3 linked regions of the Homo sapiens genome follow. The protein of the gene in region 2 interacts with the protein of the main gene of each other region in a biochemical or structural test. Each region holds a gene or a part of one and is shown on either strand. Other genes may lie near its edges.

Evidence for each region.
Region 1: the proteins of PRELP (region 2) and COL2A1 form a complex in vitro, tested with the Homo sapiens proteins (one study listed by BioGRID).
Region 3: the proteins of PRELP (region 2) and FBLN2 form a complex in vitro, tested with the Homo sapiens proteins (one study listed by BioGRID).

The regions. Positions count from the first base shown.
Region 1 is NC_000012.12:47,973,373-47,980,476, forward strand, and holds part of COL2A1 (collagen alpha-1(II) chain isoform 1 precursor), read right to left. Parts: intron 6,691-7,104; coding exon 6,637-6,690; intron 6,193-6,636; coding exon 6,139-6,192; intron 5,387-6,138; coding exon 5,225-5,386; intron 5,027-5,224; coding exon 4,919-5,026; intron 4,746-4,918; coding exon 4,638-4,745; intron 4,282-4,637; coding exon 4,228-4,281; intron 4,056-4,227; coding exon 3,948-4,055; intron 3,784-3,947; coding exon 3,730-3,783; intron 3,548-3,729; coding exon 3,440-3,547; intron 3,196-3,439; coding exon 3,142-3,195; intron 2,699-3,141; coding exon 2,591-2,698; intron 2,234-2,590; coding exon 1,945-2,233; intron 1,491-1,944; coding exon 1,303-1,490; intron 960-1,302; coding exon 717-959; intron 182-716; coding exon 35-181; 3' UTR 1-34. UniProt on the Homo sapiens protein: Type II collagen is specific for cartilaginous tissues. It is essential for the normal embryonic development of the skeleton, for linear growth and for the ability of cartilage to resist compressive forces.
Region 2 is NC_000001.11:203,478,759-203,485,862, reverse strand, and holds part of PRELP (prolargin precursor), read right to left. Parts: intron 2,695-7,104; 5' UTR 2,679-2,694; coding exon 1,706-2,678; intron 1-1,705. UniProt on the Homo sapiens protein: May anchor basement membranes to the underlying connective tissue.
Region 3 is NC_000003.12:13,552,062-13,559,165, reverse strand, and holds part of FBLN2 (fibulin-2 isoform a precursor), read right to left. Parts: intron 1-7,104. UniProt on the Homo sapiens protein: Its binding to fibronectin and some other ligands is calcium dependent. May act as an adapter that mediates the interaction between FBN1 and ELN.

The sequences.
Region 1 (7,104 bases), on a different chromosome or scaffold from region 2:
TGCAACGGATTGTGTTGTTTCTGGGTTCAGGTTTTTACAAGAAGCAGACCGGCCCTATGTCCACACCGAATTCCTGCTCGGGCCCTCCTATGTCCATGGGTGCAATGTCAATGATGGGGAGGCGTGAGGTCTTCTGTGACCGGTACTCGATAACAGTCTTGCCCCACTTACCGGTATGTTTCTAGGGGAGAAAAAAGGAGGAGGCTCTGTTCAGTAGATGCCTTGCTACCCAGTTCCAGCTGCCCAGAAGCCCAAAACTGAACAAACTGGCGAGCATCAGAGCCCACAAGGTTGAACCACACTGAGGGGGCTCCTGAGACCTCTTCTTGGCTTGCCAAAGGCCTCTCCACTTCAACTCCTATCCTTAGCGGCAGGGCCCTTCTCCACCCTGCCCTTCCCCTCCTTCCCCACTCCCCACAGTGAGCTCCCAACCTGTGACCGCTTCTTCACCCTGTACACATTGCGAGAACACTTCTACAGTAGTCACTGGGTTCCAGGTAGGGTTTTGTTCCCCTGAGCCAGGGGAATGGAGAAGATGGAATGATATGTGCCTCTCTCTCACCTGTCACTCAGCCTATCTTCTCTACATGACCCTCAAACTCATGCCTCTGATGATCCTGTCACTTTAGGACCTGACAGCTGCCGCGGGCCAACCCTCAGCCCTGCTCCAGGCGGTTTGGGCACAGGCAGCTCTTCTCTCTGGCAGCCCCACTCACCGTGCAGCCATCCTTCAGGGCAGTGTACGTGAACCTGCTATTGCCCTCTGCCCGGATCTCCACGTCATTGGAGCCCTGGATGAGCAGGGCCTTCTTGAGGTTGCCAGCTGCTTCGTCCAGATAGGCAATGCTGTTCTTGCAGTGGTAGGTGATGTTCTGGGAGCCTTCCGTGGACAGCAGGCGTAGGAAGGTCATCTGGACGTTGGCAGTGTTGGGAGCCAGATTGTCATCTCCATAGCTGAACTGTTGGGGCAGAGAGCGGCAGTGTGAGGCCTGGGAGCTGGCATTCAATGGGACCAGGGGCTGTAGGGGCTGCCAAGAGTTCATGGTTCAAGGACCTCAAGGGTACTGGGGCAGCAGGGAGCTAGTTGGACATTTTTGCTTCCAGGAGTGGAGCAAGCTCAGAGGACCTCTTTTCCCACCTCCACGTGGGGAAAAAATACTTTTCCTCCTCTTTCCCTCCTCTCAAGCCCAACAGAAAACTGGAGGAAAATATGGGGAAGGTGCTAAAAGCTTCCAGGGAGAAAGAAAAGAAAGAGTTTGAGGAGCCATCTCTGCTCATCATCTAGGGCACCCAGGTACTCACATGGAAGCCACCATTGATGGTTTCTCCAAACCAGATGTGTTTCTTCTCCTTGCTCTTGCTGCTCCACCAGTTCTTCTTGGGAACGTTTGCTGGATTGGGGTAGACGCAAGTCTCGCCAGTCTCCATGTTGCAGAAAACCTTCATGGCGTCCAAGGTGCAGCCTTGGTTGGGGTCAATCCAGTAGTCTCCTGCAGGGGGAAGAGGCAGCACCCATGGGGGCTCAGACAGGCACAGACACAAAAGCTTGAGAGACCCAGGCCTGACTGAAAGAGACAGAGAGGCCTACAGGGACAAGGGATGAGGTTCACATGTGGCCTGAAAGGAGGGGGACCTGGGAGGATGCAGGGGCAGGGAGATCTGCATGAGCTAAGTCCAGCCCTAAGGAAGAACACATGCAAAGAGAGCAGAAGCAGTGCCCAGCTGGTGGATGGAGTCCACCCTGAGGTCACCTCGGCCAGGTAGCCATGGCAGGACAGGGGCCAGGGCTGCAGCTTCTCTGCTGTGAAATAAGAGAGGAACCCTCTGGCGGAAACTTCCAGGCCCAGCTCTGCCCTGTACTAGGGGGCATCTCCTCCCTTGCTGCTAGGCCTAAGGGATGACTCCCTGCTTCCCGGGGCAGGGGATCCTGTTCTCCAAGCTTACCACTCTTCCACTCAGGGTGGCAGAGTTTCAGGTCTCTGCAGGTGCGAGCAGGGTTCTTGCGGGAGCCCTCGGGGCTGCGGATGCTCTCAATCTGGTTGTTGAGGGACTTGAGTGTGGCATCCACCTCGGCGTCATGCTGTCTCAGGCCACCGGCTGCCTGGTCGGCCCGCATGTACTGCAGGGGGTCGGGGCCCTTCTCTCTCGGGCCTAAGCCAGCAAAGGCGGACATGTCGATGCCAGGGCCAGGGGGACCTGGAGGACCAGGGGGTCCAGGATTTCCAGGAGGACCCTGCAGCAGGAAACAGAGAGATCAGCCAGGATTGTGTGAAAGTGCCCCTCCATGTCCATCCCCATTTGCTAGAATGTACTAGAGTGTCCCTCTTCCCAGCCCCATGGGTGGGGCGGAGGTGTAGCAGGCGAGGACCAAGGAAACCACAGCACCATGTCTATTTCTTCCTTAGCCCTTCTCTTCAGTTTCCCAGCACTGATCATGGGCCCTGTGACCTCTGAGGAGACCTCAGGATAAAGGATGCCATCACTGTTAGCTGCAGGCTGATGCCCTAAAAGAGGCCCTGAGCAAAAAAGAGCTCAAGCCTCCCGGATGGTAGGGACACCTCGACAGCAGGGAAGGAGTCAGGACACTTACAGCAGGGCCGGTTTCGCCTGATCGTCCACGGGGACCAGGAGGCCCAATGGGGCCAGGGATTCCATTAGCACCATCTTTGCCAGAGGGACCGACGGGGCCAGGAGGACCCTGCAAGAGAGAGAGGTCGTGAGGAAAGAGTGGTCACCACAGGGAAGGCTGGGGAGTCGCTGGGGCTGGGTAGGTGGCTGTCCTGATAGCACCAGCCACTCCGCCCCCAGTTCTTCACATGCTCAGTCATGGAACCCTAAGTTGGTCTCTATTTGGCCAAGAACCAGCAGGATAGCTCCATGGCTTGCCTACCCTCCTAAGCTCCTCTTTGTAAAATGCTGTTCTGTCTGACAGCGAGAGGCTGATTCATGTTTGTCTTACAGCCATTGTGGCCTCAGGCGCTTTTCTGGCCATAGGCACATGAGCCAGTCCTGCCCCCATTACTGAGTGAGGACCCCTGAGCCCACAGCTTCCCCAGAAGCAGCAGCATTTCCCTCCCCATGGGAACACAGGCCCACACTCTCTGAAGGGCCCCCTCCATCTTCCAACTCCATGTCACTTACTCTAGGGCCAGAAGGACCAGCAGGACCAGAAGCACCTTGGTCTCCAGAAGGACCCTGTGTAGAAGGAAGAGGCAAAAGGCCACGGTCAGCACAGACATATCTATCTATATTCTGGGAGCTGGGGGAACAGCTTTATGTCCCAGCCCCATTCCCTTTCCACTTCCTCCTCCCTCCAGCCCTGAGGAAATCCTAGAAACTGCTTAGGGTGATCCCAAGCTGTCCTGGCAGCACAGGGAGCTCAAGTGGGCTCTGTGTGGCAGGAGGCCTCGGGAAGTCCCACGCAGGCAGTGACACTCACAGGAGGGCCGGGCAGACCCTGCAGACCAGTGAAGCCACGGTGTCCCTTCAGGCCTCTCTCGCCAGGCTCTCCAGCCTCTCCTTTGTCACCTCTGGGGCCTTGAGGACCCTGGGAACAAGACAGACACCGATTGAGTCAGGTCAGGGCCAGGACAGGAGCCCCCTCCTGTCCCACCCAAGCTGAGGAATCCCCGGAAACACAGGGCTGGAGGCCCAGGAACCACCTGGAGGCTGGCTGCCCTCCCAGCCTATCCCTGGTGGGGACTCAGTGCAGGACACTTGGATACTCACCTGGATTCCCCGGGCTCCAGCTGGTCCTGAGGGTCCCATGGGGCCTTGTGCACCCTGAGGAGAGAGTGAGCGCAGCGTCAGAGAAAAGCCAGGACAGGTGGGGGCCTCCTCTGCATCTGAGGCCACTGCTCCTTAGTCCAGAGACTGCGGAAACCCAGGGACTGCCTCAGCCCCACCGCGCAGGGGAAGGCGGCTTTTACTGAATTCAGGATACTTACAGCTTCTCCTCTGTCTCCTTGCTTGCCAGTTGGACCAGCGGGGCCAGGGGAGCCAGGGGGCCCAGGGGCTCCAGGAGCTCCCACAGCACCAGTCTCACCACGATCACCCTGTCAGGAGAGAGGTCTCAGGCTCAGAGAAGAATGTTCCAGAAGAGACAGGAACAGAAGGTCCTTCTAGGCTGAGATGAGACTTGTTCCAACCTGCCACCCCCAGCTGACCTGTCAGGCCCGAGGCAATGTCCTCCCCAACCCACTGCACACACAGACACCAGACACTCACCTTGACTCCAGCAGCGCCATCTCTGCCAGGGGGGCCATCAGCACCGGGGCTTCCCTGGACAAAGTGAAACAAGAATGCACTTAGAGCTGCTTCCTGCCCATCTCCCCCTCTGCTCCCCCAGCCCCTCTCAGAAGCCCAGGCCTCTCCTCTTCTGCCCAACTCACTCACACTTTGAAGCCAAAGTTTCCTCACCAAGTTTCCCTCCTCCTTCCGGAAGCAGCCCTTGGTCTCTATGCCCGTCTCTCTCCCCGACAACCTTCCCATTGTACCTAGGCTTTCAGGCCTGTCGGCCGACACTGCCACCCCCTTCTCCAGGGCCCTGACTGGGACTTGTCCTTGCTGACCCAGCACAGAGACTCACAGGGCCCCTCTCCCCAATCAGGGCCACCCCAGGGGGTCTCACTGCTCACCTCTCGTCCAGGTTCACCTGCAGGACCCGTCAGGCCAGGAGGACCCACGGGGCCAGGAGGACCTCTGTCTCCAGATGCTCCAGGAGCACCCTGCTTGCCGGGCTCACCCTGGAGGGACAGAGACAAGGATGATGAGTGCAAGTGGTAAGCACCCCTGCCCAGGGCCCACTGACCCTTCAGGGAGAGGGCAGACAAGGGACAGTCCTGAGGGTGCTGAGGGAGGTAGAAGCCTTGGCAGGCAGGGCCCAGCTTGGATGGAGGGAGGGATACCCCACACTCACCGACGGGCCAGGCAAGCCAGGGAATCCTCTCTCACCACGTTGCCCAGGCAGACCGACGATGCCTCTCTGACCAGCCAGACCCTGGGGACCTGGTGGACCTTCGGCACCCTGAGAGAGGAGAGGCAGGAGATGAGAACTGACAGTGGCCCAGCCTCTTCTGTCCTCTCAGCACAGCTCTGTCTGTGCAGCCCCGCTCCCTGGCATCCCCACGGCCCCTGCTCCCTCCTACCCCATGCTCTGTGAGCTCAGAAGCCACTCACGACCCTGCTCCCAGGGACCTTGGCATGGGCCTGGTGAGGGACTTACAGAGGGACCGTCATCTCCAGGCTCTCCCTTCTCGCCAGGGGGTCCAGCAGGACCTTGGAGGCCGGGTTCACCAGCTCGGCCAGGGGGGCCGCTGTCTCCTCGAGCACCTTTGGGACCATCTTTTCCAGAAGGACCAGGGGGACCAGGGGGTCCAGGGTTGCCCTAGAAGGAGAAAATGCGGGAAGTGAGGACTCATCTCACCCTTCCTCATCCAGGCTGCCAAAGTCACTGTGGCCTCAGTGACAGCAGTTTCCTCTCTGGGGGCTTCTCTACCTCCCCACACTAAGGGCAGGCAGCTTAACCCCCCCAACCCCAATCTACCGCTGCAACCTTCTCACCATGTGAGACAGCTCTGGGCAGACAGCCCCAACTTCTCCAGCTCCTGCTTGCTTTGCTTTCTCCCATCTACCTGGAATCTCTCCTCCCTCCTCCCTTTGTCCTCAATCCCCCTTCCTCAGGAGCCGCTCCAGCCCTGCCCCTCTGACCCCTGAGCTTGCCCCCAGCACTCTCTCCCTCTGCCTATGGCGCTGGTGAACCCAGTGAGTTCATCACCACTGCTCCCTCCATGCAAACTCCCTGAGAGCGACCCAGGACATGCGGACTTGCTTTAAAGCACACAGACAAGTGCACAGAACATGCTCAAGAAACATCTGTCCAGGATGAAGGTAATCATGGCAGCCCTGTCCTGCCCACCAAGCCAGCAGGGCAGCCACCCATTGCTGACAGCAGGGCCACAACCCTGCCCCCAGCCACCCTCAGGGGATAGGTCCCCATGATCAGTTAGCTACTCCTCCAGGGGGCAGGAACGGACTCAGAGGAGTGAAGGCCAGCCTGGAGCTCTCCAGACCCTGTTGGGTGCTGGGCCAGGCTATTCCATGCCTGCCTGTGCCTCTCATGCCAGGAGCATCACTTACATTGGAGCCTGGGGGTCCAACGCGGCCAGCAGCTCCAGGGAATCCAGTGGCTCCCTGTGTGGGGAGAGGAGAGCCCCTGAGAACCTCAAGCCCTCAGGAGGTTTGAGATTAAAATGGGCGGGGGGCGGGGGTGGTCTCAGAGCCTGGTATGGAAAGGGCGAGGGACTGCAAAGCAGCAAGGGGGATCCAGGGAGGGAGAAAGGGCCCCCGGGTCTGGTCATAGAAGCAGGCACAGGCTGTTTCCCTGCCTCCGGTTTCCACAGTCAGCACTTCAGGGAGCTGAACGAGGGACAAGCCTCGGGCTGGGGAATCCGGGACCACAGTGCACCCAGCCCACAGGCGCCCTCTCTCCCACCTGGCTGTGGGTGGGCTTAGGCTGGGGACCAACGCAGGGCTGGGAAAACAGTCGGGGGCATCCCAGAACACCCCCGCCATGGGAGCCTCTGGGGCCAGGCCTCTTTGTGAGGTGCAGGGTGGGGTGTCAGAGGCCTCACTCACCGGGGGGCCTTGGGCACCTCGGGCTCCTTTAGGACCAGTCACTCCAGTAGGACCCTGGAAAGGAAAGAGGGAGACAGTGAGGCCCAGTGGCCCAAGGAAGACGGTGGGCTTCTGTCTGAGCCCCAACAATGGACCCCTGAGGTTTTCGAAGATGCAGCTTTCTTGGCACTAAAAACCCAGCCTGAAGAGGCTGCCACAGGCAGCTCTGTCCCCTCTGCCACAGGAGACTTGTGTTCTAGGAGAAGCCTGTCAGGCAACCACAGAACCGGTCTGGGGTCTGGCCTCCCGGGAAGCTCTTCCTGCCACCGCCCCCTCCTCCCCAGGAGATCAGCAGCTTGGTTCTGGCTGGCTGTGGCCAGCCTGTACTCTGTCAGTCCCTACACCCCACCCACACAGCCCACATGCCACATGGAAGCTCCTTCTACCAACATGGGGGTGTTCCCAGGCCTGCGAACCATCCTCTGCGCA
Region 2 (7,104 bases):
TCCATCACATCTTGTTGGATGCCTGTGGCACCAGGCATGCCAGCATTTAAATGAACTGTTTTATTCTCCCTAAGCCTTGCCTCACTTATCATTTATGGAGGAGCAGGAGGAGGAAGAGTAGGCATCATCTTCATTGTAATTGTCTTCCTCTTCCTTTTCCTCGTCTTTCTTCTTTGCCATTGGAGTAGCAGAAGGGCCCTGACACGGGGGTTTTCTCTTATGAGCTTGGGGCTGTGGCCTAGCCACCCTCATGCTGAGTTCTTCAATCTGTGAAATGGTAAGAGTGGTGCCTGCCCTGTAATCAGGGGAGAGAATGTTGGCAAAGGCATTTTGTAAGCTGTTTAAAGACAGTACCAGTGGCAGCATTATGGTCATTGTGAAGAACGTAATCACCCCACTGACCTAGGCCCCACTCAGCCCATTCTGTCGGGTAAAAGGCACAGGAGACAGGCTGGATGGGGTGGGCTCATGTGGGTGAGGTGTGAGTTCTCTGACTTCAACCTTAGAAGGTTGGGATATCCTCCAGCAACCTGTTCTTCCACAATCTGGTAGAGACCTATCAGCCATTTATTAATCAAGGTATCCCTTCTGTCTGTATTTTGGCCTCATAGCTTCCTGGGGGTAATGTGTTTTATTTTAGTGTGCTGTCTCCAGGGTAAAATTATACAGTCTTCCCCTTTTCCCATTTTTTTTTTGTAAGATTAAAAAAAAAATCCTCCCCTACTTCTTGAAATTATCCCAAATGAGTGAACGATCTATTCGCCCATTGTTGGTGTCGGTAGAGACACCAACAATCTCCATCTCATTCTTTGGTTTGGAACCTAAGGATCCCCAAATATCATTCTAGGGGTCCTTCTCTTTTCCCTCAATCCCTCTCTTCCCTTCTGCTGCTGCATCCCTTCTGTGAATGTAGGCTGATTTTGTTCAAGGACCAGAAAATATTATTTCACTTCTAAACCTTTCTGCTAATGCTCTGCTCCGAGCTGAAATTTTTGATTGAAGCAAAACTGCAACTTCCAGCCTCCTCTCCTGGGCTGCAATTGATACTCCAAGTCCAGAACCCTGTAAATGTCACTTAGGCAAACTCTTCCTTAAGTGCACCTAAACATCGCACCCTTCCAGATAGATTCAGAAAGCACCAGCATGCAGACCTTCTTTTCCTGACTGCCACATTTTTACCAGTTGCATACCCTGAATCAAAACCCAGGCTCAGGCTTGGGAAGAAGCATCTTCCCACAGGGGCAGGTTTCTGCAGAGGGCAGACCCAGGACATTTCAGGATAGGTATTTAAATGTCTCTGTTCTGTTTTTAGCAGAATGTCCAGGAGTATATTCCATGTCTACCCTACCTATAGATCCAGTTGCCAAGGAACTGGGGCTGAGGAAGAATGGAGGAAGAAAACCTATGACCCTCCAAGTATGGTATTCTGGGCACTTTCTCCATATTAAACTATTACATCCTCATATCACCTTTGTGATAGAAGATATTGTTACCATTCTCACTTTACAGATGAGGAAACTTCCCAGACTGGTCAAATATCTTTTCAAGGTCACCCAGATAGCAAGTGGCAAGGCCATGAATTGAAGTCCAGTGCCAAAGTGGATGCTTTTTATACCACCCCACCCTGAGTCTCCCTAGAGAGGGTGGAAGTGCTACACAAGCCAACCTCCTTGCCTTCGGCCCCGCCCCGGCCCACCCCACTCACTCTCGATGCTATTGTTGTTGAGGTACAGGTGTTCCAGCCTGTTGTTGATGGCGGGCACACTGCTGATCCTGTTGTGGGACAGGTGGAGCACAAGCAGGTTGGAGATATTAAAGGAGTTCTTGGGGAGTCCCCTGTCTGTCAGCTTGTTGTAGTTAAGCCGAATGAAGGCAAGATTGGGAAAGCTCTTGAAGTATCCGTTAGGGATGGTCTCAATCTTGTTACTGTCCAGGTAGAGCTGGTGAATGGCGGTGGGGACCCTGGGCGGCATCTTTCTCAGGATGTTGTGGGCCAGGTTGAGCTGCATGAGGTTCTTGAGGCCATGGAAGGTGTCGGGCTTGAAGACGCCGTCGCTCAGCCTGTTGTGCTGGAGATCCAGGAGCAGCAGGTTCTCCAGCTTGCTGAAGACACCAGGCGGGATTCTGGAGATGTGGTTCTGGCTCAGCCTCAGCTGCTCCAGGTTCCGGGGCAGGGCCGAGGGGACCTCTTCCAACTGGTTCTTCTCCATGTAGAGGAACACCAGGCCGGGCAGTTTCTCCAGCACCCTCTGGTCTATCTTGCGGATTCGGTTGTTGTCCAGGTTAATCCATCGCAGGCCTGTGGCATTCTGGAAGGACTCCACCGGGAGCTCAGTGATGAAGTTGTTCTGGAGATAGAGGTAATGGATGCGGGGCGGGATGACAGGGACCTTTCGCAGGTTGCGGCTATCACAGTAGAGGGCAGATGGGAAATCAGGGGGGCAGTAGCATTCGCGGGGACAGTCAGGGAAGATAGATGGAGGGCCTGGAGGGAGGGGAGGAGGCAGGTCTGTTGGCTCTGCTGGTTCATCAGGCTGAGGAAAGCTGGGTGTGGGCCTGGGCCTGGGCCTGGGTCTGCGCCCGGGCCCAGTCCCGGGTCTTGGTCGTCTTGTTGGCTGGCCTTGGGCCACTGAGGCCAAGATGAGAAGTGGGAGGAGCCAGCAGAGGGGTGACCTCATGATCCAGGTGATGCACCTGCAGGGAGAAGACACATAAGGTCATTATCCTTGGGCCCTCAGTAACTAGTTGTCATGTTTTTGAAGCCAGAGTTGGGCAGAACTAGAGCTCTAGGGAAGATGGGCAGAGCTCAGGGAGCTGTGGAAGCATCTCCTTGTTTGCCTGTACCCAGCAGGTAAGGGAATAACAAGGGCTTGAGGCTCTGGATTCCCTGGCCATTGGCTTAGCCACTCGATGTGTTGAGCCTGCTCTGAAGAGGGCGGGGGACATGCTGGTAGAAAGCACATTGGTGGCCAGGTGCGGTGGCTCACACCTGTAATCCAGCACTTTGGGAGGCCAAGGTGGGCAGATCATGAGGTCAGGAGATCGAGACCATCCTGGCTAACACGGTGAAACCCTGTCTCTACTAAAAATACAAAAAATTAGCCAGGCGTGGTGGCGGGTGCCTGTAATCCCAGCTACTTGGGAGGCTGAGGCAGGAGAATGGCGTGAACCCGGGAGGCGGAGTTTGCAGTGAGCCGAGATTGCACCACTGCACTCCAGCCTGGGTGACAGAGTGAGACTCCATCTCAAAAAAAAAAAAAAAAAAAAAAAAGGCACATTGGGGCTGGTGGGACAGTGGCATACAAGCCTGTAATCCCAGCACTTTGGGAGGCCAAGGCGGGTGGATCACTTCAGGTCAGGAGTTCGAGATCAGCCTGACCAACATGGAGAAACCCCATCTCTACTAAATACAAAAAATTAGCAGGGTGTGGTGTTGGACACCTGTAATCTCAGCTACTTGGGAGGCTGAGGCAGGAGAATCGCTTGAACCCAGGAGGAGGAGGTTGCAGTGAGCCGAGATTGCACCAATGCACTCCAGCCTGGGCAACAAGAGCAAAACTCTTTCTCAAAAAAAAAAAAAGAAAGAAAGAAAGCACACTGGACTCCGAGTCAGGAGTCCTGGGGCTTGTCAGAGAAGACCCTTAACCACTCTGGCCCTCAGTCCTCCCATTCACAGCATGAGAAAATCATCAGTGTCTTCATGAGAGGGATGTTAGGATGTATGAACCTTAGCGTCCTGGTTAAATCCAGAAAGGTCCTTAAAGATCCTATAACCTAGTGGTTTTCCAACTCTGCTTTCATTTCTGTGACATACCCCTGTGGGGAGGAGACTGAGGAGATGGCCCTGGGGTACCCTCAACCCATCCCTGTGCCAACCTCAGCAGCTCTCTTTAAAAAAACCTATTATATATATTGAGGTTTAGCCGAAGCATTCATTTGTTGAGGGGCAGGGGACACGTTTCTTTGCTAAAAATGGCTTGAAATCCACCAATCAACTCCAGACCCCACCATTTGCAAAAACTGAGGACTGGAAGGAAGAAGTGGCTCGCCAAGGCCAAGATGCTGTTTAACAGCAGATCCAGTCTGCACACTCACACACACACCTCTTCAGGTCCCATGCACATAAGCAAACTCACTCACTTATCCTCTGTGTGCGTATATGAGCCCATACGCAGTACACTGAGTATTGGAAGGAAAGAAGGAAGGCGGAAGGGAAGGAAGGCAGAGACTGTCTTTCTCCACCTCCCTCTAAGGTGGTCTCTTCCAAGGCAGGCCTCTCCAAGGAGGTCTGGAAGGCCATTTTCCCTGGCCTCCTATCACAAAGGACCTTGCAGTTAGGTTTTTGGCTTGATCTCCCGTTAAGGATATAACATTGTCAGAGATACATTGCAAGGGTTAAAAAGAGAAGGCATTAATTGCAAAACTTTAAGCTTGAGTCTTGTTGGCTGAACCCCACTTCACTTGTAATTGGTGAACTATGAATTAACATTGTGTAAGTTCTGTAATTTTCTGGAAAACAGAACAGTCATCTTGCATATAAATTAAGGGGGTAGTTAAAGCATTGGTATTCTAAAACAAACATTTCTAAAAGCCTCAATTTTTGTGACCCTGATTTAAAAAAAAAAATTTATTTTCTAATCACCCAGAAGCCTAGAAATGATCTAGAAATCTTTCATACTGTGAGAAGCCCTGTCCCAAGGAGGCTCCCAGCACTGGCGGGAGTTTTTCTATATCCCTTCATTGCCTTTGTCACCGAAAGCATATGCCAGGGACTGGGCACCAATTTGCCCAGGGCTTCCAGCAAAAGCAGTGAGGCACTGTGGCTGTGACCTGTGCTGGGCGGGGCGGGGTTTCCTTGGCTCAGTGCCAGGGCAGCCCTGGTCTTCATTGTCAGGGGTGAGAGGAACAGGCAGGTTACTCACAGCTCCACCCAGCAGGCTGGCTGTGCGCGCCTTCTCATCCACAGTAAACACAGGCCTTCCTCATCCCCATGTGCAGCACCAGACCCTTTGGGAACTTATCTTTTCACTAGTCCTCTGACCCGTTTACATTCCAAACCTCTGGGCCTAGCCAAGCTGCTCCCAGAGCCAACAGGAGGTTCCCCAGGAAATGCTCCCAGGAGCAAGTTATGTGGGGAAGCTGAGCCTGCTCTCCTCCCCTTCCCTCAGCCCCAGGGCTGAATCAGAACCATTCCAAGTGCAGGGATGCTTCTCTCTTAAGGAAATAGCATTCATTTCTAAGGCTTTTCTCATGGGGTGATGCCCCTTCCTGCCGGAGCTTTGCCATGAGGCAGGATGAAAAGTTCTGACAGCTGACAGCACAGCCATTCTCTCTGGCAGTGCTCCGTGATGTCCTAGGTCTCTGAAACCAGAATCTGTGTGACAGACTGAGGGTACCTGGACTCCATGGGTAGTCATAGTCCCTCCTACAAAGCCTCAGACCCACACTCTATGCTCCTGCCTTCTAGAAACTTCTGTCCAATCATAAGATTCCTTAGGATGGGTCCATGTGTGTGTTTTTAAATTTTTCTTATGCTTTCACAAGTGCACTTCTCCACCCACAGCTTTCTACTGGGCTCTGCTCATTGCTCAATCAGTGAAGGTTTGTTGACCACCTACAACAGCCAACTGCATGCAGTTCTGCTCTCCACCATCAGTTCTGGAAAAGCTGCTGCTTCACGGAAGAGAAAGGCAATTGCTTTGCCCAACCCAACATTCACTCTCCACATTAAAGAACGTTTCCTAAGAGAATCTTAATTTTTTTTTCTTTTTTCACTTTAAACAAAAATGAGATGGGGGTCTCACTGTATTGCTCAGGCTGGTCTTGAACTCCTAAGCTCAAGCAATCCTCCCACCTCGGCCTTTCAAATTGCTGAGATTACAGGTGTGAGCCACTGCACCCAGCCTCTAAGAGAGTTTTAAATTCTAATTTCAATTCCAACTATTGTGGATCTGGGCTTGACTCCTGGCTCTGACTCTCCAACCCGGGCTCCTCATCTGTGTGAGGATCAAATGAGATCATGCATTTGAAGGCATGTTATAAAGTGCAAAATCTCTGCAAGTGGCAGAGGCTTACTTACTCATTTATTTGTTTATAAACAGCAGATTCTCTAGAGAGACTCCTTGATTTTTTTTTTTTTTTTTTTTTTTTTTTTTTGGTGATACAGGGTCTCCCTTTGTTGACCAGGCTAGAGTGCAGTAGTGCAATCACAGCTCACTGCAGCCTTAACCTCCCTGGGCTCAGGTGATCCTTCCATCTCAGCGTCCTGAGCAGCTAGTACTATAGGCATGTGCTACCACAGCTGGCTAATTTTTGTCTTTTTTGTAGAGATGGGGTTTTACCATGTTGCCCAGGCTGGTCTCCAACCCCTGAGCTCAAGTGATCTGTCCTCCTCAGTCTCCCAAAGTGCTGGGATTACAGGCATGAGCCACAGCGCCCCAAGGACTCCTTGATTTTTAAAGTGAGATAGCCCCCTTCCCTATCTCTCTCATTAATTTAATGTTAAAACCCAGGAGTGGTGGAATGTTTCTGCTCAGGGCAGGGTTGGGTGGAAGTCCTGATGGGTTGGTCAAGTCATTAGGAGCAGCTATTTAAGGCTAATTGGCTTTGTATGGAGAGGTTGAGGTTGGGCTGGGAATGAGGTTGGGTTTGTCTCCCAGGGCTAGGCAGGGCTAGCAGCAGGGTTACGCCGCACTCTGAACTGGCATTCTTCTTACTTGTCAGATCTCCTGTCTAATTGGTCACCCCTAAGCCTCCATGCCTTGACCCAGAGCTACCCTGCAGTGGAGAATGGGGCTGCTTCTGACCTAGCGCTGTGCCGGTGAATGTCGGAACACCCCTCTCTCTTTTTTCCCTTCTTTCTGTTCTCAACCTAGGTGTCTGAAAGCCATCCTGCTCTCTGTATCTCTTCCTGTAGTCCAGAAGGGTGTTGGAAGCAGGGAGAATCAAGCAGTCTTTGCCAATTTATGAGCAGAGTTAGTAGAGGAGTGAGCCTGAGGCCCTTTCAAGGCCCCCATTAGGGCTGATGTGGTCCTGAGATAACAAAGGAGCCTTATGGGGGCATGATGACTTCAAGATGCCCCTTTCTAGGAAGGTGAAACGATA
Region 3 (7,104 bases), on a different chromosome or scaffold from region 2:
GAGGGAGTTTCATAGACTCCCTGCAGTCCACTCACAGACCCCTGGCTGAAGTCCTGTGGCCCAAGGATAAAGAAAAAACTCCTAACGGAGACATTCAAAGCCCTTCACCAACTAACCCCACCTAGCTTTCCTAACCCATCCCCCTCTGTTGTCCTCCACAAACCCAACTCCTGCTAAACTGGAAAACTCTCTCTAGTTCCCAACCCCTTATCTTTCTCTCATCATTAGCTCAACCTGCGATGCCCTCTCTCCTGAAACTCTCCTAGAACCCTGAACACCCAAATCCCACCCCATGCTTTAAAGCCAAGCCCTGAGGGTGGGATAAGTAGGTAGATGGATGAATGGGTAGGTAGGTGGGTGGGTGGGTGGGTGGGTGGGTGGATGGGTGGATGGATGGATGGATGGATGGACGAGTGAATGGATGGGTGGCTAAAAAAGTAGGTAGGTGGGTGGATGGGTGGGTAAGTGAACAGATGGGTGGGTGGGCGGGTGGATGGATGGGTGTGTGGGTATATGGATGGGTGGGTGAGTGGAGAGGGGTAGATTAATTAATCCGTATGGCCCGAGCACAGGGCTGGCAGAGAGGATGGGATGAATTATGAATGTGAGTATCCCAGAAGGGCCTTCAGAAACAGAAAAGGCTTCCCTGAAGTCACCTGGCTAGTCACTGGCTAAGTGACCTAAACAACCAAGGTACGTGTCCACCTTTCATACAGAGGCACTTTCACTCCTGCGTCCGCCTTTTAGTCTCACAAAGGGCTGAGATCCTAGACTTGGGTGGCGGGGTGGGGGGAGTGGTGCCAGCAAAAGACAGGCAGAGAGAGACACAGAGACTGACAGAGACAAGGAAAGAGATCCATTAGTGAGACAGAAAGAGACCAAGACAGAGATGGAGAGAAGCACAGACCGAAAGCCAAGCAGACAGCCAGAGACAGACAGCGATGGAGACAGGCAGGCGGGGCCGGCCTACGGCAGAACCAGGCTCCCTTGGCCACCACAGCATCTGGAAGGAGGCAGCAGCCAGGGGAGCGGGCAGCCCAGTCTCTCTGCGAGTCCCTCAGGCCTTTGCTGTGCCCAATTTATTTGCACGGCCCTGAAATTTAGGAATTTCTCAGGGCTGCCAGTGAGGCGGCCAGTGTACAACCAACAGCGGGGTCTGGCCCAGTCTGTGGTATAACCGTTGGGCTCAAGAGCCTTGGAGGCCCCCAAGGCAGTCAGCCCCTGCTGCCAAAGCCAAGGGAGACAGCCAGCAGGACCAAGCTCTGGACTCCCAGAGATCAGAGCTCAAATTTGAACCTAGCCCTGCCACTAGGCTGCTGGGCACCTCGGAGCATGTGACCCTCTGAGCAGCAATGCTTTCATCTGCACAGTGGGTCTAATCACTGCAGCCTTTCTCCTCTGGGGAACCCCCCTTCACACTTCAGGCTACGTGGACTGCTGGATGGCCAATGAGAGGAGTCCCTGCCCCATCCACAGTGACAGGTCAGAGCAGTCACACGACCCAGTCACATGGCCCATGCTGATGCTCCTGGGAGGAGGCTGCCTTGCTCCAGAGCTTCTGAGCTCGAGGGTGAGCCTGGAGCTGCTGGGGCACCTGACCACCACACGGCAGAGCCTGCCTGGGAGTATGGAACACAGAGAACAGCAGAGCAAGAGATGGAGACCCGGTCCTGATGGCATCTGCAGAGGCCCTGGATACAGCCATGCCTGAAGCTACACCCTGTATTTTTTTAGTTCCATGACTTTTTTGCTGAAATTGTACTTTCTATCACCTGTAACCAAAATTATCCTGACATTTGTGAAAACAAAGAAAGAAGAACCACCTTCTTGTATTCATGGCTGACTTAACCCCAAAATGTCTGAGTTGCTGGGGTTATGTGTCCCTGCAGTAGACTAGACCCCTCCTAGGGCAGCAGGCTGCCTCGCTCAGTCCCCAGGCTCAGGGAATGGCTCCAGACATGCGCCTGGGGCCACATCAACGCATGACCTCCTGACCCTCCCCAGCCACAGCTGACTGGCCCAGGGCAGATGTTCTTCCCAGGCTGGGCTGGTCACAGCTCCTCCCTGAGCTCTTGAAGTGGAAATAAAAGAAAGCACAGACCACCTGCAGAGGAAGAAACAGCAAGTTCTGAAGGTGGGCACATTTCCTGCCATGTGGCGGGCCTCATTTCGAGAGAATCAACCAGGCTCACAGAGAAAGGCAGAGACAAAAGAAAGATGGGGCGTGAGGGAGTCCTGGTGGCTGCAACTTGACCCAGGGCTGACAGATCACTAGTCCTTCCAGGAGGATGTAGTGGGGCCCCTACGTCTCCTGAATAGCCTCAGACACAGACAAGCCTGTGCAAAGGGGCCCCTGCTTCCAGCAATGGGCAGGCCAACTTCCGAAGTCACTGTGGGGGACCAAGCCCAGGTCATAGGTGGGCTACAGTGTCATGTGCTGATGCCCAACCAGACCCTGGGAACCCCAACGTCTAGGGCCAAAGAGGGGTCACTCCTCCCATCCCATGCACAGGAAGCCATGGCCTCCCCACCACACCCTGCCTTGGGGTCACACAGGGACTGGCAGCTGGTGTTACAGTGTTTCCATCCTCAGCAGTTCATTAAACCAGTCTGTTACAGGCTGAACATCTGTGTCCTCCCTACATTTCTATGTGAAAGCCCTGACCCCAGTGGGATGGTATCAGGGGGTGGGGCCCCCCATTAGGAGGTTTAGATGAGGTTACATGGGTGGAGCCCCCATGTGTGGATTAGTGTCCTTACAGAAAGAAAGACCAGAGCTCACTAGCTCTCCCTCCCTCCCTCCCTCTCTTCCCTTCTCTCTCTCTCTCCGTCCGCCGCTTCCCACCCCCCACCTTGTGAGGACACAGCAAGAAGGCAGCCACGTGCATGCCGGGAAGAAAACTCTCACCAGGAACGAAATCTAGGGCTTAGACTTCCAGCCTCCACAACTGAGAAATAAATGTCCATCTTCAATCTCCTCCCCGACTCATCTGTGACATTTGTTATAGCAGCCGGAACCCGCCAGGACAGTCTTAGGGCACGGAGCTGGGGGCACAGAGGACATGGCCACTCCCTGAGAGCCAGACACTTGGTCTCAGAGAAGACATTCCTGCTAGAGGGCTGGGGCCTCCTCCATCAACCCCAGCCTAGCACGAAACATGCCAAGGCAGCCCCAGGAGATGTGAGGTATGTGACGCCCCTACCACAGGGGACTTCCTGGGCAGGGATAGAGATGACTGTTCCAAGGACAGCTGATTTCAGGGACAAGCACCAACGCTCGGTGATCTTGTGAGGAAATGTCCCCGCGAATCCCTCTGAACCAATCTGGCTATTGGAGACCGTCTCTAGACAGCACGGGTGTGCCTCCCACACCTCTCAGACGCTTGCCAACCATTCTTTTTAAAAACCAGGGTGCTGGGCACAGTGGCTCACGCCTGTAATCCCAGCACTTTGAGAGGCCAAGGCGGGTGGATCACAAGGTCAGGAGATCGAGACCATCCTGGCTAACACGGTGAAACTCCGTCTCTACTAAAAATACAAAAAATTAGCCAGGCATGGTGGCGGGCGCCTGTAGTCCCAGCTACTCGGGAGGCTGAGGCAGGAGAATGGTATGAACCTGGGAGGCGGAGCTTGCAGTGAGCCGAGATGGCGCCACTGCACTTCAGCCTGGGCAACATAGCGAGACTCCATCTCAAAAAATAAATAAATGAATAAAAATAAAAATAAATAAAAAAAAAACAGGGAACACTCACTCGGGCTCAAGGCTGTGGCAGGGCATACAAGGTGGCTAAGATGCTAAGCACTGTATTTTTAGTGCCATATTTATTTTTATGGGTATTGCTGGTTTAGGACAAGTGATCCTGATTTCTGTCTACAGTTGTGATCAAAGGTTTCCTTTAAAAGTAAGTATAAGCAGCCAAGCACAGTGGCTCACGCCTGTAATCCCAGCACTTTGGGAGGCCAAGACAGGTGGATCACCTGAGGTCAGGAGTTTGAGACCAGCCTGGCCAACATGGTGAAACCCCATCTCTACTAAAAATACAAAATTAACCCAGTGTGGTGGCACGCACCTGTAGTCCCAGCTACTCGGGAGGCTGAGGCAGGAAAATCACTGGAACCTGGGAGGCAGAGGTTGCAGTGAGCCGGAATCGCACCACTGCACTCCAGCCTGGGTGACAGAGTAAAATTCAGTATTTAAAAAAAAAAAAAAAAAAAAAAGTAAATATAAGCAAAACAGGGAAGGGATTTTTTAAAATAACATTAAGTTATTAAGTATGATGTCAAGGACAGGAGGTAGGAGGATGCAGCCGAAAACACGGTGGTGAAACTCATCCTCACTCTGTCAGAAAGGAAGCTGACACCCTCTGGCTTATTCCCCAAGAAAGTGCACAGGTCCCCGTAGAAGCCCTCTGCCTCTACCAGCCCCATAATCAGACAACAGCCATCAGGGCCCCTGGGATGCCCATGGGCCAAAACGGTGAAATTAATTTGTTTCCACAGCCATGCAGGGGAGCAGAGATGAGGGAGGACATTGAGATGCTCAGCCAACACCAACCACCACGAGGACTAGGGAAGTTGTCTAAGAAAACACAGTGATGAGCGAGATCTTCAGAGACAGACAAGAGACAGAGAGAAAGAGAGAACGTGTGTGTGGGCACGCGCATGCATGCTCATCAATGTTTTTTGACGATGTGTTTTCATTTTGAGGAGACTCTAAGAAGAACAGAACTTTCTGGATCATCTAAAAGCTCAACTTGGGACCAAGGTTGGGGCTGGGAATTCAGGGCCAGGATGGGGGTCCCAGGCTAAGGAGGGAAGAACTCTGGGAGGCTTATCAAGCACTGGGGTACCCCGATCACAAGCCCAAGGGCTGGCCCCAACACAGATGATGGTGTCTCCGTGGCCAGAAGACAGAAGCCACGGGAGACACAGGTGGCTGCACTCAGCCACACTCAAGAACCAGCTACGGCCAGCAGCACTGTCCGCCTCCCCAGAGTGGGCCTGGGGCTCTCCATTCATCCTTCAGCCTTCACACCAACCCTACTGGGGGCCCCTACCACCAGGCCCATTTTCCAGATTGAGAAGCTAAGGATAGGAGACAAATCCCTCATGATGCAGGCTCCGGGGGCTCAGGCCCAGGCAATGCTCAACTCCCACGGTGCTCCCCACGCGCCCAGCTGGGCCTCATCACACTTCAGAGCCCTCCTCCTGTTTCAAGGCTCTTCCTGGGCAACAATGTCAGCATAGCCAGGGGGGCGCCCCCGATTCACAGATGAGCAACCAGAAGCCCGACAAGGTGTGAGACCTGGGACTGGCAGGGTCTGCCTGAGCACATGGGTGCTCCCCTCCACATCCCTGGCCCGGCACAGGTGGGTGGCACCACTTCCTCACCAGCACACAGACCTGGGCGGGACGCACTGGCCGCCTACAATACAGCCCCTCTCAGGAAAGCCAGGCTCCCCACCCTCGAGGAAGGAAATAACCTTTCCCCAAACCAGCACTTGCTTTGCAACAATCTCCATATATGAGGGGAGAGAGAGGCATTTCTGCAACGTTTCCAAATTCCAATAACTGAAGACAATGGCACAAAATGACGCACGGCTTGACCCACGAGGGGCCCTGGGAAAGGACGTGCCCAGCTGAGGCGAGTTTGTGGTGTGGGCGTGCAGTGGTGCCCCGTACACGAGGGCAGCTCGCCAGGCAGGACCTGGAGGTGGACGGAGCTGGCTCCCGTCCCAGCTCTTCCTCCTCAGTCGCTATGTGACTGCAGGCAAGCACGCCCCACTCTGCGCCTCAGTTTCCCGGCCCTGTCACTCTCACAGGTCTCCCACCTGCCGCCTTGTCCTCTCCAGGCCCACTCCTACACCTGGGCTGCAGAGGGACCCTTCAACCTCACAGTCTGGCCGCGCCTCCTCTGCTCGGAACGCCCTGAGGCTGCCTGTTGCTCGCTCGCAGACCAGGACTGGAGGGCCTCCGTTTTCAGGGTCTAGTTGGCCTTGCCAGCCTTACTTCCCACTCTTCCTCCAAGCCCCCACTCTGAAAGAAGCCAGGCTTTCTTCTGTCCCCAGGTGCCCCTCACCCCTGTACCTTCATATCACAGTGCCTGCGCCACCTCCAGGAAGCCCTCCCTGACCACCCAGGCTCAGCTAGATGCCTCCTCAGTTCCCATGGCTTCAGCGTTCTCCTCCAGGATGGCCCCGACAAAGCATTTCAGAGCAACCCATGCAGGCACCCCTGGGGATGACCTTAAAAGGGGCCCTGTGTTCCGCTCCTCTGTACACCAGCCCCTGGCACAGCATTGGCCCACACCAGAGGCTACTGCCAGCACTGTGGGGTGATGAAGAGAATCCAAGGCCCTGGGCACACTCCCTGGCAAAGGGTTTCATAGAGCTGCTAAAGCAGGAACGCCAACTCCAGGGAGCCCCTCCCTGGCCGCCCCCACACAACACCCAGTCACAGCTCCCAGCCCTCCCGAGGTGAAGCCACAAACCCACTGCTCCCACCACCCTATAATGCCTGGCTGGAGGTACAGCCCTGTGGTCCCCTCTGCCCCTGTAGCATACAGGAGCAGCGCCTCTGTCTGGTCTATTGGGAGGGTAGACCTCTGCAGCCCCAGCATTCAGAAGGCGCCCTGGAGGCAGAGCTGCCTGCAGCCACACGGACACCTGCACCACCCACACTCGGGGACCTGGGGAAGGAAACTGGATGACAGAGGGCTGCTAAGGACCAGAAGCCATGCATGGTGTTTACGTCCACCACCGGGCAGGACAGCCGGCCTCACCCTGGCCTCCCCTTTCACTCACTCCACTTCCAATCCATCAAGAAATCCTGGCAGCCCCACCTGCAAAGTCAGTCCAAATCTGACCACTCTCACCTCCAATGCTGCCACTGCCCTAATCCAAGCCCCAACTTCTCTCACCTGGAAGCTGCATGGATCCCCACAGCTGCCCTCCAGCCTGTTCCCTGCCAGCAGCAGTGTGGGGGAAGGGACCTTTAGGATCTCAATTAGACCCCACCCCTCCCCAAACCAGAATCCACCAGCAGCTCCTCATCACACCCAATCACCTGCACCTGCTGTGAGTGAGGATCACTTGAGGCCAAGAG